Homo sapiens: one gene and its partners. The protein of the gene in region 1 purifies or fractionates together with the protein of each later gene. This does not show direct contact. Each region holds a gene or a part of one and is shown in the gene's direction. Other genes may lie near its edges.

Region 1 (7,435 bases):
GCTTCGCTCCAATGTTATCTTGAACTTCCGTGATAAGTCATTCCACAGCTCTTTCAAAATAAGTACTTGGAATTTTTGTTGAGTGTATAATTATTTGTGCATCTTGAAATCTGCTTATTCTCTTCTTTCTTTTTAAAAAAATCATTCTCACTGTCATCTTATGCTTCTTCTCTTCTTAGATATCAATGATGTCAAACGGCTGAAACCTGGCTACTTAGAAGCTACTGTGGACTGGTTTAGAAGGTATAAGGTTCCTGATGGAAAACCAGAAAATGAGTTTGCGTTTAATGCAGAATTTAAAGATAAGGTAATATGTCATTCAGAACTGTAGCTTTAGGCTCATTTGTATTGAGACTCATAATTTAACCATATTGTTACCATCTAAAGATTCACAAAACAGAAGTCTGGAAACATAACACAGTCTTGGTGTTTATTTATTCACTTTAATATTCTCTTCCATTTTTAGAATAAGGAAATGATTCAGAAGAGACAAAGTATCAGGCTTTGGGGAAATGTTGATAATAGGAAAATAATACCTTTTTATCATTGTAATGCAAACCTCTTCAAATTATAGGACTTTGCCATTGATATTATTAAAAGCACTCATGACCATTGGAAAGCATTAGTGACTAAGAAAACGAATGGAAAAGGAATCAGTTGGTAAGTGTAAACACTTTGCATGTTTAACACACAAAGCAGACCAGCTTGCAGAAAAGGTTTTAATAATCATAAGACACTGTACTGTTACTTTCACTTAGAAAAGAGATACAAGGCTGGGTGCGGTGGCTCACACCTGTCATTCCAGCACTTTGGGAAGCCAAGGTGGATGGATTGCTTGAGCCCAGGAGTTGAAGACCAGCCTGGACAACATGGAAAAACCCTGTCTCTACAAAAAGTACAAAAATTAGCTGGGCATGGTGGTACATACCTGTAGTCCTAGCTACCTGGGAGGCTGAGTTGGGAGGATCACCTGAGCCTGGGGAGGTTGAAGCTGCAGTGAGCCGTGATCGTACCACTGTACTCCAGCCTGGGCGACAGAGCGAGACTCGGTCTCAAAAAAAAAAAAAAAAGAGTACGAGAAACAGCCAATGTACAAAAATAATTCTCCCAGAAATCTTCTATTCTGTGTCAGGATAATGTCCTATAAAATGAAAACATTGTCCTTCCAACAAACAGAAGAAAAATGGAGAAGAGTTATATGTGTAAAAATGTACAGTCCTAAGAGTTGGCATTTGTCTGGGTGCTATATGGCTCATTCCTGTAATTCCAGCACTTTAGGAGGCTGAGGCAGGAGGATCACTTGAACTCAGGAATTGGAGACTGGTGGGGGCAACATAGTGAGACCTCATCTCTACTAAAAATTAAAAAAAAATTAGCCAGGCATGGTGGCGCTTGCCTGTAGCAAGGCTGAGGTGGGAAGATCACTTGAGCCTTGGAGATCAAGGCTGCAGTGAGCTGTGATTGCCCCACTGCACTCCAACTGGGGCACCTGAGCAAGACCCTGTCTCAAAAGAAAAAAAAAAGGAAAAAGATTTGGCTTTTAAGTTAACTTCTCTATTTTTTCGTATCTTACGATTTCTATGAAAATGGTCTTAATGTATGTTAAATAACAGGTCAGCAAAGATGATTCATTTTTCATTTTGATGGTGTATTTCTTTGTTGTTGTTGTTTTCTGAGACAGAGTCTTGCTCTTGTTGCCCAGGCTGGAGTGCAATGGCATGATCTCGGCTCATTGCAACCTCCGCTTCCCGGATTCAAGAGATTCTCCTGCCTCAGCCTCCTGAGTAGCTGGGATTACAGGCGCATGCCACCACGCCCGGCTAATTTTTGTATTTTTAGTAGAGACGGGGTTTTGCCGTGTTAACCAGGCTGGTCTCGAACCTCTGACTCATGATCTGCCCGCCTCGGCCTCCCAAAGTGGTGGGATTACAGGCGTGAGCCACCACACCCGGCCTTGATGGAATATTTCTAATTGGGCACATATTATATTAGTACTATAATGACTAATATATAGGAAAACTTGAACTACGGATAAACAAAAATAAAATGTATTTTTAAAACATGATCCATATTTTAGACTAAAGTGGGCTAAAAAAACCCAAAAAACATATTAGGATTGTATTATATACACGACTTGTCTTACGATTTTTAAAATTTAACACTATGTAATAAGCATTTCCTCATGTCATAAAAGATATAATTTTTTTTTTAGAGACAGGGTCTCTCGCCCAGGCTGAAGTGCAGTGTTACTATAATAGCTCACTGTAACCTCAAAGAAGTGATCCTTCTGTCTCAGCCTGCCAAGTAGCTGGGTACTACAGGCACGCATCACCACTCCCAGATGATTTTTAAATTTGTTGTAGAGACAGTGTCTTGCTGTGTTGTCCAGGCTGATCTTGACCCCCTGGCTTTAAGTGATCCTCTCACACCTCAGCCTCCAAAAGTGCTTAGACTACAGATGCGAGCCACCATGCCTAGTCTAGAAATATCATATTTTAATAATATAATATTCCATCTCTGTATAATATGTTTTATGGATAAACCTTTTTATTTTTAAATCCCTGCAAAGAAGGATAAACTATTTTTAATCATTTCTTATTATTGGACATTTTGGTTACTTCCAATTTTTCACCACTATTAATAGTGAAATAGTATATGGTAAACACCTTTGTAAATTACCGTTTCAGTATTGGATTGGGTTCTTAGAGGTGGAATTTCTCTATCAAGACCTATGAGCTTTTTAAAAGGTTTTGGATACATTTTACAGAAATATTTTTCAGAAAGATTGAACCAGGACTCCTGCCAGAAGTGTCTGTTTCAGATGTCTCACCAACACTACAGGAACTGGGTTTTTTTTTGTTTCATTATTTTTTCCAATTAAGAAAGATATGTTTCTCAATTCACATTTCTTAGCTATTTCAGTGAGAATTACAAAGCATTCAATCTCAGTTTCTTTCGTCCTCTCCTCCCCTCCCCTCCCCTCCCCTCCCCTCCCCTCCTCTCCTCTCCTCTCCTCCTTATTGCAACGCAGTCTTGCTCTGTCACCAGGCTGGAGTGCAGTGGCGCGATCTCAGCTGACTGAAATCTCCGCCTTCCAGATTCAAGCGATTCTCCTGCCTCAGCCTCCCGAGTAGCTGGGACTACAGGCATGCGCCACCATGCCCGGCTAATTTTTGTATTTTTAGTAGAGATGGGGTTTCACCGTGTTGGCCAGGATGGTCTCGATCTCTTGACCTCATGATCCGCCTGCCTCAGCCTCCCAAAGTGCTGGAATTACAGGCATGAGCCACCACACCTAGCCCAATCTCAGTTTCTTAAATCCGAACTTGTTAAGATATTTGAATAAAATTGATCACAAGAATAGCTATGCCTTGCCAAAATACATAATTAGAATGTTAAATGTAGGTGAAAAAGCTTTCGACTAAACTAAACTTGAATATCACCTGGTCAACCACTTTCAACTCATTTTTTAACTCTTAAGAGATAATTTTTGTTATTTTGTCTTATGACTACTTTTGTTTTATTTAATAGCATGAATACAACTTTGTCTGAGAGCCCCTTCAAGTGTGATCCTGATGCTGCCAGAGCCATTGTGGATGCTGTATGTAAAAGTTTCCTTAAAAAAAAAACAAGCCTGGTTGCTAAAAACTATGATGCTAAATGGGGAGAGGAAGTACTTGTTTCGACAAATACTTGAGTGCCTTTTGTATGCATGTTACTGTGTGGAGTCTTGAAATTAGAAACCATGAACACATGCAAGTGGCCATTTGACTGAGGGAGAAGCTGAGGGAGTGATTCTAATCAATCATAAGTTGGACAGATAGCATGGTAGTAAGATTTGTAAAAATCAGAATGGTTCCAGAATGTACCAAGTAACCTGTGTGCCTATGACCCATCATAAGCCATTTCCGCAAAAGAATCAATGGGAATTTACTTGACTTGGTTCTAGCAAGGACTGAGGAAGGTATCAAGTTTTAGGTACCATTGCAGGAATGATTCATAATCTAAGAAAGGCTTTCATGTGAGGTAGTAAAAGCACCCGTCAAAGCAATAATTTTGTTTTTGTACTATTTTTAATTATTTGGTTTGGATTAACCAAAAAATTGAACGAGATCATCTTAAATTATTTTCATTTATAATATTAAATAAGGAAAACAAAAGAAAATGAGGTCTGACTTTTTTACTGCCTTGTAAATGGGGTAGAACAAGGAAAAAAGGACAATTTAATGATGAAACCAGTACATTTAGTTTTATCTTTATTTATGTATGAATCCCGACAAAGTTGAGATAAATAAGAAAAATTATAAGGGAAAAGCCAGTGGTTAACTATTATAATTTTTCAGTGAGAACACTGCCCATATTTTATAAATATGTGTGTATATATAAAATTGTTATATATGCATAAATCAGTTTTTATTATTTCAAAAAACATTCTTATTATTCTGCATGTCATAAAAAGTCAAGAGGCTTGAATTTTTTTTTTTTTTTTTGAGACAAGTCTCGCTCTGTTGCCCAGACTGGAGTGCAGTGGCGCAATCTCAGCTTACTGCAACCTCCGCCTCCCAGGTTCAAGCGGTTCTCTGCCTCAGCCTCCCGAGCAGCTGGGATTACAGGTGCCCGCCACCATGCCCAGCTTTTATTTTTAGTAGAGACGGGGTTTCACCATCTTGGCCAGGCTGGTCTTGAACTCCTGACCTTGTGATCCACCCACTTCAGCCTCCCGAAGTGTTGGGATTATGGGCATGAGCCACTGCACTGTCCAAGAGGCTTGAATTTGTTAGCATCTCAGCAGTAGAGCAAACCTTCTATTGTTCCTATATATTATAAATTACGTTTAGATCCTAAAATTTGGGATAGTCTTCAGATTCTCTTAAATTTTTGTCAGTATACCTTTTTAGCTTTTTAAAAAATGAGATTAGACTAATAGATTTTAATATTTTATATTTTAGTTACCACCACCCTGTGAATCTGCCTGCACAGTACCAACAGACGGTAAGATTTCTATTCCAGTAAAATTTCATTAAACATTACACAGTTATGGAAAAATTATGTTACTTTTATTTTTAGTTGACAAATGATAATTAAATATATTTATGGGTACAGTGTGATGTTTTGATATATGTTTACAATGTGGAATGATTAAATCTGGCTAATTACGAAATCATTACCTCACATACTTAATCATTATTTGTTGTGTGGTAAAAACATTTGAAATCTACTCTTAGCAATTTTGAAATAGATGTTACAGTCACCATCCTGTGCAATAGATCACTAAAGCTTATTCCTTTTGTCTAACTAAAACTTGGTACCCTTTGACCATCGCCTGCCCTTTCCCCATCCTTCAGCTCCTGGCAACCACCATTCTACTCTCTACCTCTATGAATTTACCTTTTTTATATTGCACATATAAATGAGATCATGTGGTATTTGTCTTTCTGTACCTGGCTTGTTTTTTGTTTTTTGACACAGAGTCACCCAGGCTGTCACTCTGTCACCCAGGCTGGAGTGCAGGGGCACAATCACAGCTCATTGTACCCGTAACCCCCCCAAGTTAAAGTGATTCTCCCATCTCAGCCTCCCAAATAGCTGGGACTGCAGACATGTGCCACCATACCTGTCTAATTTTTTTATAATTTGTAGAGATAGAGTTTCACCATGTTGCCCAAGCTGGTCTCAAACCAGGTCTCGAACCAGGCTGGTCTTGAACACTAATCAGGCCGGGTTTCGCCATGTCACCCAGGCTGGCGATCCACCTACCTTGTCCTCCCAAAGTGCTAGGATTACAGGCGTGAGCCACTGCACGCAGCCACGTACATATTTTTAACATACACAGGAAGAGAGGGAAGAAGGGTGAGAAGAGAAGCATTTTTAGAATTCTGTAGTGTACGTGGGAAGGAAGATGAGCTGCTACATACCACCTTTAGTGCCACACTGTATCACAGTGGTTTCCAAACCATGACCCATTGTGCCCCTCTGAGTTCCATGGAGGTGCCCGCTGGACACTGGAGGGGACCCTGAGTGGGCTGATCTCCACATTCCCACCTGGCCACAGGCTGCTTCACCCAGAAAACAGTTCTCTCCTCCTTAGATGTCAGAATTCTCTGTAAGATTTTTCTGGTAAGAAAATGATTCTGCCACTTAAAAAAACAAGTTTGAAGGCTGGGTGTGGTGGCTCACACCTGTCATCCCAGCACTTTGGGAGGCTGAGGCGGGCGGATCACTTGAGCCCAGGAGTTCGAGACCAGCCTGGCCAACATGGAGAAACCATGTCTCTACAAAAAAAAAATACAAAAATTTGCTAGATGTGGTGGCACACGTCTGTAATACCAGCTGCTGGGGAGACTGAGGCACGAGAATTGCTTGAACCTGGAAGATGGAGGTTGCAGTGAGCCATGATTGCTGCCACTGCACTGCAATCTGGGCAAGAGAGTGAGACCCTGTCTCGAAATTAAAAAAAAAAGTTTGAAAATCACACTATGCAATTAGCATGAAGTGTAAGGAAGCCCAAAAGAAAACACCTGCATTTGCTGTAGAGAAATTTTGTATGTATGCCTGTTAATTTTCAGGTAATTCATAGTAGGATTCATTAAAGCAAGTATATTAGTCTTTGTTATATGTTAGGTGTATTTTTGATTCTCAACAGGAATTCTAATTTGTTTTTCTTTTCTCTGAATACAGTGGATAAGTGGTTCCATCACCAGAAAAACTAATGAGATTTCTCTGGAATACAAGCTGATATTGCTACATCGTGTTCATCTGGATGTATTAGAAGTAAAAGTAGTAGCTTTTCAAAGCTTTAAATTTGTAGAACTCATCTAACTAAAGTAAATTCTGCTGTGACTAATCCAATATACTCAGAATGTTATCCATCTAAAGCATTTTTCATATCTCAACTAAGATAACTTTTAGCACATGCTTAAATATCAAAGCAGTTGTCATTTGGAAGTCACTTGTGAATAGATGTGCAAGGGGAGCACATATTGGATGTATATGTTACCATATGTTAGGAAATAAAATTATTTTGCTGAAACTTGGCTTAGGATATTTTTATTTTAATCTGAAGCCAACATTAAGTAGGTATGGGTATTTTTTGGTGTTTGTTTTCTGTTGATAGTCTTATAATTCAAATTTATAATTATTAGACGAAGAAATCGCTTATATTTATAGTACTCTTGATACTATGCTCTAGTACATAAGTCCTAGCATACCATTCTAAAGCAAAAGTTTTTAAATTTATATCATATTAGCAGAAAGCACAATGTTGCTCACCCTTTGAAGTTATATATTAATAGTTATTTTTTTACTTCTTCAGTCAACTAATTGGACGCTTAAGTCATTTATATTATATTCTAAGTTATCAGCTGAACAAACCAGTTTGAATGCCAGCCCATCTTCTTACTAGCTCTGTAATCTTAAGTCAGTTTACCAACCACTC
Region 2 (4,829 bases), on another chromosome or scaffold:
GTGGTCAGGAATCTGGGTGTGGCTTAGGTGGATCCTCTCACTCAGGGTCTCTCACAAGGCTGCAATCACAGTGTCAGCCGAGCTGTAGTGATCTCAAGGCTTGACTAGGGAAGAATTTGCTTCCAAGATCCCTTATATGGTTCTTGGCCAGATGCACTTCCTCCTTGGCTATTAGACCCAGAGCCTCAGTTCCTCATCAGCCGTTGGCCAGAGTTTGCCCTCAGTTCCTTGCCCAGGTGAGTCTCTCCAGAGGGCAGCTCATAGCAGGGTAGTTTGCTTCATCAGAGTGAAAAAAGAGTTAAAGGGAGCAAGACTGAAGCCACAGGCTTTTGTAACCTAGTCTCAGAAGTGACACTCCATCACTTTTGCCATGTTCTTATCTATTAGAAGTAAGGCTGTGGGTCCAGATCATACTCAAGGGGGACGGATTCTACAAAGATGTGACTACCAGGAGGCAAGAGTGATTGATCTTTGAAAACCATTTTAGAAGCTGCCTTCCACAGCATTTACAAAGTCATATGTTAGTCAAAATAATGCTAGCTCCTGTAACAACAGAAAAATGCAGAAATTTCAGAGTCTTAACATTATAGAAGGGTCTTTCTCATTCCCATAAGGTCTAAGAGGGTGAGTGGGTAAGATGCTTGGCTCCAGAGAGTTATTAAAGTATCCAGGCTGAAGGAGTCATTGCCATCTTCAAGAAGTGATTTGGCTGGGTGCAAGGGCTCATGCCTGTAATCCCAGCATTTTGGGAGGCCACGGCAGATGGAGTCCTTGAGTTTAGGAGTTCAGGACCAGCCTGGGCAATGTGGAAAAACCCCATCTCTACAAAAAATACAAAAAATAGCTGGGCGTGGTGATGTGTGCCTTTAGTCTCAGCTACTTGGGAGGCTGAGGTAGAAGGATCACTTGGGCACCGGAGGCTGAGGCTGCAGTGAGCTGAGATCACACCACTGCACTCCATCTTGGGTGACACAGCGAGAGCCTATCTCAAAAACAAAAAGCAAGACAAAACACAACCAGAACCAAAAAGGTGACTTCCAGGGCTGCCCCAGCTAGGAACACTCCAGAAAGCAGACAAGGAAAACCGAGTGTGAAGAGTCCCTTTGGAGATTGTCATGGCCATGTGACATTCCTTTGGCCTGAACTCAGTCACATGTCCCCTTCGAGATGCAGGGGGGCCTGGGAAATGTAGTTTCTGGCTGGGCAGCTGCTTTCCAGCAATAGCACTCTACTGCAGAAGAGGAGCAGGAGTCTGTGGTGCAAAGCCAGCCAGGCCTGCCACAGATACTGCACCATTTACAAAAATGCTTTTACACTCATTTCATTTGCTTCTCATCACAATCTATACCATCAGCTATACTGTCCTCATTTTTCAAGTAGGTAAGCAGACTAGCATATCTTTAGAACATGCAGCGTTTATAATTACAGAGAACAGTTCAAGTCCCATCTCTGACACTTACCGCCTCTGTGACCATGGAAAAGTTATTTAACTTCTCTGTGCCTCAGTTGCCTTATCTGTAAAATAGGAACAATAGGACTACTCATAGTTTTTGTAAAGATTTCATATGCTGTGTATAAGTTACTTAGCACTGTGCCTGGCATACATAAGCACTTAATGATATTAGTTCTTGGGAAGATTACGAGGATGATAGTGCTCTGTATGGAAACAAAAGTTAAGGCTCAAAGAAGTTAAACGATTTACCCAAAACTACATAACAAGTACATGGCAGAGCCAGCATGGAGATTTTAGGTAGCAGCTTCCCACATTTTATGCTTTCACCTTCCAGAGAGGACTTTCACCAGCTTCCTCTGTAAAAACAGGAGTAGGTGAGCCTTAAGGTGAAGACACAGTGCCAAGCGGCCATCTTCACTGCTGCTTGGGTAGACCCAGGGTCCCAGGGGAATCAGTGCTGCATCATCTTTTCAATCCACCCATTTCTATTTAATCCAGCATTTGCCTCTTTATATGAAATGTGCTGACCCAGTGCCTCTTTTTATCTGCACTCTTTGTGGTAAGGCAAGTTCTCCAAGGCCTATATTTCAAGGTCTTTGTTTATAAATAGGCTCTGTCTTGCCAACTAGATAAAAGCACAGGAAATGATGTAGGATGAGATATTTCATTAGACACTTAAATTCTATTACATTTCTCCTACAGGAGTTGTTCACTCTAAAATGGCAGAAAAGCAGTTCTCATGTTAAATAGTCCCCAAGCACACCTTTGAATGAAGTGACTTGGCCAGAAGATACTCCAGATCCACCAGGAACAGTCAAGAGATTGCCATCAGAGGCTGCTTTGCCCGTTTTGAAGGGCTCAGCCCATTTCATTTTATAGAGTGAGGAGAAGGCAGAAATGGACATGCTGGATGCGCCAGAGTCTCCAAAGCAGTGGATTTGTGGACATAGCTGGGCAGATTCTCGGAACTTCCTTTCTCAAATCAGGTCACAGCCCAAACCCCTGATGACGTCTGAGAGGGCTTTAAGACAAGTGACTTCTGGTGTGGGCCAAAACCGCATTAAATCCACATGGCTGTGATTATCAGCAGACAACTCAGCTTCCATCAGTAAAATATGTTCATTTCCCTCTTGCAAGCCCTTGCTTTCATCTTCTTTTCTAGCTGGACCACAGCTTGAGATAAATTTCATCACATAATCTTTTCTGTCAGTGACCTTGATGAGAACCTATATTTAATTCATTTCCTAGTGAAAAGCTGTAGACAGGTGAGTCTTGTGTGTCCTTGTGCAAACTTCATAAGGCGCCACCTCTAGTTTCATTCAGTGATTGTTCCCTGTCCCCCTTCTAGGAACCAACGTCCAAGAGGCCCAGAAGATACTCAACAACAGCGGACTCCCCATTACTTCAGCCATTGACCTGGAGGATGCAGCCAAGAAGGCTGTGGCCAGTGTGGCCAAGAAGTGATGTCTTTGTCCTGATCCAATGGAGAAAGAAAGCCATTTTTCCGTAAAAAGGGATGGTTCATCATTGTGAAAGAAATGGTTATCTCATTGGGGAAGAAAAGGGGAGGGGGAAGGCAAGAATCACTGAAAAATCTTAAATCTGTGTTTTCTGGAATAAGATATCTAGACAGCCTAAATCTGATTTTGGTCTTTATAAAAATAATATCTTGTGTTCTCATACTTTTCTGTCACTGTAAGCCTGCCCAGTAGGCAGTGTTTTGCAGACTTTGGGGAGTGGTCTATGTGGCCAAATATTGTGTGTATAGACAGAATTTGAAATCAAGTCCTGCTTCATTTACAAGAATTTTGGTGGGCATCTAATCCTACATAATGAAAAAGAAAAACAGACCATTTAAAAACTCAGACAAGATTATATTTAATATATTAATTACTAAAAAGGCATAAGATTACACTGAACATATTAGCTACTAAAAAGGCACTGCTAAGACATTCAAGCAAATAGCTATTACACACTACTGCAGATTTTACAGGTTTCTAATTCTAACATATGTTTGAAAAATCCGTGAGTATTCCAAAATATATTTAATAATGGAATATCTGCATTAATATACCATCCATGTGTTTTTACCATTTGCCTTAATATTGAATATACTGTTTACCTCACACTAAAAAGAAAACCAGAAGCCTTATTTGTGATTTTGGGAGTGGAAGCTTCCATTTTTGTGTCAAAAATGAATCCTGATTCTTATGGAAATCTCTGTTATTAAGATATTTCAAGATGAGACAACACTGAAGATCAAATTGTGTTTAGTATCACTATCTTCTCTCCTCGTTTCTCTCTTACTCCTCATCCTCCCAGAATCTACCAGTTTATGGTAGAAAGATGGGAACCTTATTTGAATGTGTTTTTTTTTTCCATGATGTCCAATTTTGTTGTGGGAAAGGATTTGGATAAAATTTTTGTTTAAATTTTGGTAGATTTTTATCTATACAAATTTAAATAAAATTATGTTTTGTAAGCTGTAAGATCTGTGTGTATCTCTCATTTTACTCAATTTTATTCCTCAAACATTTTTTTTTTTTACAAAGACACTAGTCTTAGTGTCTTAGGTATGCCTCTAAAATTTGATAATTTGGGTCATTCCAGGATTATTCCAGTTCCACTCAACTTTATCAGATACCCATTTCTGTGTTAGGAGATTATTGAATCCATAAAAGTTATACACAAACCAGAACCCCAGGAATGTATCTCAGATGTCTGACAGGTTGAACTGTGATGTCAGTCTGCGTAACGCAAAGGGAGATACTCCAGTATAACTCATTCCATTAAGTGAGGCTCAATTGCCACCATTAATTTTCCTTTCAGTGTATAAATATGTAGTAGACCAAACTATTTTGTTTGTTTTTTTTACCAGCTTACTTTGTTCTCATAAATTTTATGTGTGGACAAAAGTATGAAAGTCATTATTGTTTAGAGCCATGTTTGCCATGGAGAAATAAACTATTGGATAGATCAGTCTTACATCCTTTCTTAATGCCCATGCAATGAATGAAGAATATTAACAATGTCTTCTTAGTTGTGTTTTGGTTTTTGATAGCTTAATCACTAGTTGGTGCAGTAAAAAAAATAACCTATATTATGTCAACTAGACAACATTTTTAAATTTTTGATCTCTGAAGAGGACTATGTTTGAATCACTTGTAAATATTGATGTTTCCAGTCAACCCAATTTGGAGGAGGGGATAAAGCAATTAAATCATTTTTGTGATTATTTCATAAAAGGGTTAATAACAAGGAAATAGCCTTTTATTTTCAAATAAGCTCAAAGCCATCAGAGCTTGTTCTTTTTGCATCCTTAGCGTAGCTTGTCTCTAATTGTTTTATTCTCAGGCAGGCCATTTTTACAGGTGGA
Region 3 (7,435 bases), on another chromosome or scaffold:
GTAAGATAAACATTTATGGCTCAGTATTAATAAAGCCTTATGACTCTCAGGATCTAATGATATCACTAACTTTTTTTTTTTTTTTTTTGTGAGACAGAGTCTCGCTCTGTCACCTTGGCTGGAGTGCAGTGGCGCGATCTTGGCTCACTGCAAGCTCCGCCTCCCAGGTTCACACCATTCTCCTGCCTCAGCCTCCCAAGCAGCTGGGACTACAGGCGCCTGCCACCACACCCGGTTAATTTTTTTAGTAGAGATGGGGTTTCAACGTGTTAGCCAGGATGGTCTCGGATCTCCTGACCTTGTGATCCGCCTGCCTCAGCCTCCCAAAGTGTTGGGATTACAGGCGTGAGCCACTGCGCCCAGCCGATATCACTAATTTTTTTTGAAATACGAAGATATTTTGGTTATTAAAAGCAGTGTATATATATGATAAAGTAATGTGTAACAGGAAGCTTTATGAAGAATGTCTTCCAATACACCTTTATAAAGTTCTAAATTCAAAGATTTGTATTCCTCTGGCACGTGAACGATCATTTCAGGCTTTGCTGGGTTATCGTAAAGTCCCTAAGTATGTATACAGAAACAGGACTTAGATCAAAAGGCACGTAACAAGAGCACTGCTTAAAATTGAGTACTCAGGATAGGGTATTAAGATTTAGTGCGGGCTCAGTATGCTTGTAGATCAAAATGGTGTGAGACTTAATGGGAAGGGAACCTGCAAAGATGTGCCCTCTGTGAACCAGGAGGTGTTGGTGGGGTTTCGTCACAGAGAAGAGGGAGCCAGCCTTCCCACTGATGGTATTACAGGTGATCAGGATAGCTTCTGTGCTGAATCGGCCATGCCAATTCCCATTGTAAATGGTTCCCTTCCCAGTTCAAAAGGGGTCACAAATCTTATCAAATGGTAAATTTATTTAATGACTGAATATGATATATAGCAAGCGGCTTCCTGTTTGTGTTATTTACTTTGTCATATTAGTCATGATATGAATAATACCACTGTGTTTCGTGAATTAGGTTCTCAGAGGCACTGTGACTGACTTCCCTGGATTTGATGAGCGGGCTGATGCAGAAACTCTTCGGAAGGCTATGAAAGGCTTGGGTAAATTTAGCTTCCTCTTTCTAAAGCAAATGTGATATTTGTTTTTCCAAACAAGTCATTAATTACAGTAAGAATAATTTTAGAATATTTTGATCTGAAATCTGTAGGAGAAGAGATATGTTAAGATAACAAAATAATACTATAAACCAGAGTGTCCAGTCTTTTGGCTTCTCTGGGCCACATTGGAAGAATTATCTTGGGCCACACATAAAATACACTAACAATAATGATAGCTGATGAGCTAAAAAAAAAAAAAAAGCAAAAAAATTTCATAATGTTTTCAGAAAGTTTATGAGTTTGTGTTAGGCTGCATTCAGAGCTGTCCTGGGCCACATGTGGCTTGCAGGCCATGGGTTGGACAAGCTTGCTATAAACCATCCCTAATATTCAGTCTCTAGAACTGAACAGGCAGTTAAATTCAGCCTCTGTGCTTTTGAGCTTGTCACCCTCACCTGTGTGGTAGAGGCCCGAGTCGATAAGGCAGCCATCCCTGCAGGTGGGCAGCTGTGCAGCTCTGTTCCCAATCAGATATCCCATTCTCATTCTGCTAGACTCTTCTCTTTCCCCAGCCTCTTTTCTAGTCATTTAAAAACCTCTCATCTCAAGGATTTCCATGTGTCACTGATCTCCTGTGCTCAGGCTCCTTTTGTACTACTGTTCATGTGCTTTCTGGCCCTGTAAGTCCTTCCATTGTATCCAGCCCACCTTTTCAGACTCATCTCCCATTACTGTTTAATGTGTTCTCAGACCCAACCATCCTGGCTTATCTGCTGTTTATGAAAGCCCTGTATTTCCCCACTGCTGAGCTTTTCTCTCATTCTAAACGCTGTCCTTCCTTTCGTCACTGCCTTTCACAATCCTTCCATCCTTCAATACTTGTGGGTGTCACCTTCTCCATGAATCATTCTCCAAGATTCCCTTCCACCTCCTATCAGCTAGGAGACCCTTCTTTGAGCCCCATTTAACACCTAGATCTCTCCTGAGGCACTTGTCACATTTTGCCTTAGCTCATACTTATTTGTGTGTTTTTAAAAAACTAGGTGCCCTAAGTTTTTTAAAAGGCAGAAGTATTTTTCCATCTACTTCACAATAGGTTGGGAATGGGGGGTAGAATATATTGGAAACGTAACATTTTATATATTGTAAATTTTTAATAAACTGTTTAATAAAACATTTATATATATGTGTGTATTTGCGTCTGTGTGTGTGTGTGTGTATATATATATGTGTGTGTGTATATATATATATATATACATATTTTTTTTTTTTCTAAGAGATGGGGGTCTCACTATGTTGACCAGGCAGGTCTTGAACTCCTGGCCTCAAGCAATCCTCCCATCTTGGCCTCCCAAAGAGCTAGGATTACAGATGTGAGCCACTGCGCCGGCCATAAAATATATTTTATATTCGCATAGGGAGAGGCAAGGAAATAAGGTGACTGGGAAGCGAGTTGCCAAGATCGTTGGGAGAGTATGCATGTAGGAGCCAAAATGTAATTGTTAACCATAAATTGCAGGCACAGATGAGGAGAGCATCCTGACTCTGTTGACATCCCGAAGTAATGCTCAGCGCCAGGAAATCTCTGCAGCTTTTAAGACTCTGTTTGGCAGGGTAAGACCACACTTCATCCCAAGAGAGAATGGGAGAACAGCTATCAGTTATAAGACTAGTTTGGAATATACTGATATTCTTTTGTAAGCATCATTTATTTTGTGATTCCGACTTCCCTACTTCTGTTTCTTTTCCACTCTCCTCTAAATTATCAGCTCTTAGGATACAGTGCTCACCCAGCTTATCCTCACATAATTGTTTTTCCTTGCCTAATGCTGTAGAGGTGCCAAAAGATCCTGTAGTGAGAACTGTCTCTCTTCTTTTCCTCTGTGTTTCCCACTCAGCATTCACATGGATGTCTTACTATCCATTTTCTAGGTGTAAGCCTGTATTAAAATATGTTTTGTTTTAACACAGTCACAGTCTTGGTTCCTTTTGTCATGATTTTAACTAATGGGTTTTTAATTAGTTGATTTAAATGCTTTTATTTGATTAATAATTCAAAAAAATTTATTTGAATTATTTAAATGAATTATTTGAATTATTTAAATTTAAATGAATTAGTGCATGCATGGAAAACTTAAATGTAGTCTTGTTATTCTGAAAACGTATGTCACTTAACTAAGGAAACAAGTGCAAAGCAAAAAAGAAAGTATTCTAAACACCATTTTTAGTTGTGTGGTATGCTGAAACTTATAGGTAGGAAATACTGTGTTTTTTTTTTCACAATTACATAATTTTTTCATAATTACATACACAATTTCCCCATAGGAACAGATATCTCCCAGTGGTCAGGAGTCATAACAATGACTATAATCTATTATGTGTTTGAATGTTATTACATATTGAGAGAAAAGAAAAAATTATTACGTTTGGGTATGAGAGACTAAATGTTGTCCTTTGTAAATTTCATTATATGATTATTTTTTGAAATTACAAAGAAGATATGTTTCTCAGAATAGTATTTTTATAAAATAGTTTTAGACTACTTTTAAAGGTATTCTTTTTTTTCAAGTTAAGAAAAACATCTTTTAGAAACAAATATCTTGACGTATAAGTGGGTTTGCTTTAGTTTAAGATTTTGGTCACAGGTTAAAAGTATGTTATTCAAGGTTATAGGGTTTTGTTTAGCTCATGGGCCTTCTACTTGGAGACAGCAACATAAAGAATTCATTAGAGCAAAGGACTGTCATTCATATTTAAGAAGAATCTTATTACAATTTCTGCTGGTTAACAAATTTGTATTTTCTGTGGGTTAGGATCTTCTGGATGACCTGAAATCAGAACTAACTGGAAAATTTGAAAAATTAATTGTGGCTCTGATGAAACCCTCTCGGCTTTATGATGCTTATGAACTGAAACATGCCTTGAAGGTAAAAAGGATGAGTGAAAGGAACATTCTTGCATAGATAGTATTATTTTGTTTTGGTAATTACTTCCTCTTATTTGTTATATTTAAAAAATTTTATCTGATTATTTCAGTGAGAGTTGCTTGGCAGACAAAACTGGGAGGCAATAAGCAGTAAAGGAGGGAGAAAATTACACGTGTGTCATTTCATCTTTTTGTAGATTTAAACTCAATAATACTGGGCTGTTTAAAATTTTCATATTTTTATAGCTTTTTGTATTTTATTTTCATGCCTGTCTTCTGATTTTGAGGATGTTTAAAAAATATTACAGATGAGCTATTTTATCTTTTTCAGTAGAAAATTGCCTGATTAGGGAACCATAATATTGCTCATCATTTTAGGTTAAAAGGTAAAGCTTCAGAGAGAATTTTCAAGATAAATATTTTCTCATACTCTTTCCTTCTTTCCTGCCCCTCTAAACACTAAAATGAAGTAGCTGGTAAACTTGCTATAATTTCAGTTGCAGCAAAAATTAAATATGTATTCCCTTGACTGGTGTTTGGAATGTTGTATAAATATGAAGGCATTGACACATTTGTTTAGGCTCATGGGACAGGAAGTAGTTCAGTTGTTAGCTGTTAGATTTTGAATGGGCACATTGAGATTTAACAAGGAAATAATGTTTCTCAGGGATTCTTACTGATGGAGTGGAGAGAGGAGAAGGGTCATCCTGATAGGAGCTGGTTTGTGCTCAGTCTCTTCATTTTCCTATGGTGATTCTTTTGGAATAAACAAAAATCTGAGGTTATTGAGAAAAGCACTTTTTTTGCTAAGTACTTCTGAAATGTCAGCAGTAGTTGAAATTCTGCCAGAGAATGAACTCTAGGTTTTTCAGTGCTTGATTTTTGGCAAAAAATAGAAATATAAAGAAAATAAGGCTTCAATATACTATCTTTTAAAAAAAATTAAGTCCAGCTATATCGTTGCATCTCTTAGTTTAATCATATAGATGTGATTTTTAAAAGCAGAAAAAGGAAAGCCAACTAAAATGATTTTTCAAAAATCCAGAAAGCAAGTCCCAATTCCTTTATACTGTTCTAATTCCTAATAATTAAGTATTGCTATATTTATTGTTACCTTTGATGTAGAATTTTCCTGTGACTGCACAGCACTTAACTTGGGGGTCAGGGGTTTATCTTTTGAGGTGCTTATTAAGTATCAGTGCTCTTCCATGTACATTTACGTGAAGTTTTCATTTTTACTCTTTCGGTTTTTAAAAAATTACTTCATGTTTCATGAAAATGTTTTACTTTTAAGCTAGAATTAACTGATCAAATTAAAAGTTACAAATTTATGTAACTGGTTATGTATACGTACACATATATACACACATACACATGATAAACATTGTTTTCCATTAGGCAAAAAGAATAAAATGGTCTTTGGAGAGAAAATCATTTAAAACTTGTTATTTCTATAACTAATAGAACTCATATACAAAGAAATCCATGTTATACTGGATAATATTTATATAACTATGCAATTTGGGTAACATCTATAACTTTCTTTTAATAACTTTCTTTTTAATCTTATTGACATGTTTTCTCTATTAAAATCTCCAAACAGGGAGCTGGAACAAATGAAAAAGTACTGACAGAAATTATTGCTTCAAGGACACCTGAAGAACTGAGAGCCATCAAACAAGTTTATGAAGAAGGTAAATGTTTGTGAGTTATATTTTGACTTCACCTCCACTATCACTTCCTTCATTTCTGTGATTTGAATGCAGTCCTTTGTAGGTATGGGAGGCACGCAGTAAATGATGGATGAATGAATGAATGAATGAATGACCTGCAATTCAAGCTATTTTTCTCCTTCAGTAAGGAAAAGACTGCCTTGTTATCCTCTACTATTTTCATATTTTATAAGAAGCTACTGCTGAAGATGGAGTTTACTTTTGCATAGGATTTGCAATTAGTGTAGGGATATACAGGTTGTCTTTATGTTAACATTAAGGTAAAAATGGTTTTTCCTCCTTTAAAAATATTTAGCTTTATGCTAGCAAAATTTAGGAGTTATATAAAAAGTACTTTTGGAACTTTGGAAGAGAAACCTAAACCCTTTCCCACATCAGAGTTGATAAAGTACATTTGAGTAAATGTATGTTGTCTTAGCTAATGGCAGTGCTTGAATAAAATATTCTGCATTTTGATTTTTCTTTTTAGTGTGTCTTTTATATGAACAGAAATCTGCATTTCGGCCTAAAATATGTCTCATGAATAGAATCAAGAAAATGAAGTAAAAAGTAGAGGTAGAGAGTCCTTTTCTTACCAGATTTCTTGTAGCCAACTCTTTCTCCTGCCTGACTGAGGAGGGTCAGACTATCCAGTTTCTCAGCTCAGTCAACAGACTCCAAGCCTAGTGTCTTTTGCTAGGGGCTGTATCTTGCCATTAGTTTGTTAATCTTAGAAATGGCTTTGTTAACCCAGCAAGTCAAAACAGCAAAAAATTGTTTAGAGCAACTGTATAATTACCTTTCTAAAGGGCTGAATCTCTCTTTCCTGCTTCTCTTTTTATAGGCAGTAAGTTCCCAACCGCTAAGGCAGAAGTGATACATGTATCTCAACTTTGAACTTTATTTGATGTACTATTCAAAGATCTCTTTCTGGGGATGTTGACGTTGATGAGAGCCTTTGTGCTACTGGATTACAAATGGTGTGCTCAAAGGGGGTAATAACTGTGTGGTCTGTCCTACTCAGCCGTGTAATTGAGCACTGGCTATGTGTCTGGCAGTGTGTTAACAGGCTGTCATGAGTGACAAAAGGTGTGCATAACACAGCTCCTGTCCTCAAGCAGTTTGTGTGCAGTCTCCTCAGTGGGTGACATGACAGAATGACTGCAATATTTAAAGGATAATGAAATTCAAACTAAAGTAAAATACCAATGATGTTAAATGCAATAATGCATTCAGAAGAGAGAGGTCATCATAGCTTTGGATGTTAGGGAGGCTTCATGGTACAAATCACACATGCAGCAGAGTTTCAAGACTAGGTGGGTTTACAAAGTGTCCATTGACAGATGAATAGATAAAGAATACGTACACACACACACACAAACACAGACACACACACACAGGAGTACTGTTCAGTCTTAAAGAGGGGAAATCCTGTCATTTCAACATCATGGATAAACGTGGAGGACATAATGCAAAGTGAAATAAGCTAGGCACAAGGCATAAGCTATGCATGATCTCACTTCTTATGTTGAATCTAAAAAAATTGAACTCATAGAAACAGATAGTAAAACAGTGTTTGCTAGGGTGTAGGGGTGGGGTGAATGGGAGAAGGGACTGGTGAAATATTGGTCAAAGCATACACGATTTTAGTTAGGCAGGATGAATAAGTTCTGGGGATCTCATGAACAGCGTGGTGAC

What was found.
Region 2: the proteins of PPA1 (region 1) and SUCLG2 purify together in Homo sapiens (affinity purification with mass spectrometry; 2 studies listed by BioGRID, with this or other methods). This does not show direct contact.
Region 3: the proteins of PPA1 (region 1) and ANXA5 purify together in Homo sapiens (affinity purification with mass spectrometry; 2 studies listed by BioGRID, with this or other methods). This does not show direct contact.

Annotation. Positions count from the first base shown.
Region 1 is NC_000010.11:70,202,430-70,209,864, reverse strand, and holds the end of PPA1 (inorganic pyrophosphatase), read left to right. Parts: intron 1-179; coding exon 180-307; intron 308-574; coding exon 575-660; intron 661-3,531; coding exon 3,532-3,601; intron 3,602-4,949; coding exon 4,950-4,992; intron 4,993-6,678; coding exon 6,679-6,710; 3' UTR 6,711-7,030; downstream 7,031-7,435.
Region 2 is NC_000003.12:67,373,832-67,378,660, reverse strand, and holds the end of SUCLG2 (succinate--CoA ligase [GDP-forming] subunit beta, mitochondrial isoform 2 precursor), read left to right. Parts: intron 1-2,155; coding exon of another isoform or gene 2,156-2,199; exon of another isoform or gene 2,200-2,801; coding exon 2,802-2,917; 3' UTR 2,918-3,942; downstream 3,943-4,829. UniProt on the Homo sapiens protein: GTP-specific succinyl-CoA synthetase functions in the citric acid cycle (TCA), coupling the hydrolysis of succinyl-CoA to the synthesis of GTP and thus represents the only step of substrate-level phosphorylation in the TCA.
Region 3 is NC_000004.12:121,679,955-121,687,389, reverse strand, and holds part of ANXA5 (annexin A5), read left to right. Parts: intron 1-1,017; coding exon 1,018-1,102; intron 1,103-2,618; coding exon 2,619-2,713; intron 2,714-3,912; coding exon 3,913-4,026; intron 4,027-5,628; coding exon 5,629-5,719; intron 5,720-6,581; coding exon of another isoform or gene 6,582-6,634; exon of another isoform or gene 6,635-7,435. UniProt on the Homo sapiens protein: This protein is an anticoagulant protein that acts as an indirect inhibitor of the thromboplastin-specific complex, which is involved in the blood coagulation cascade.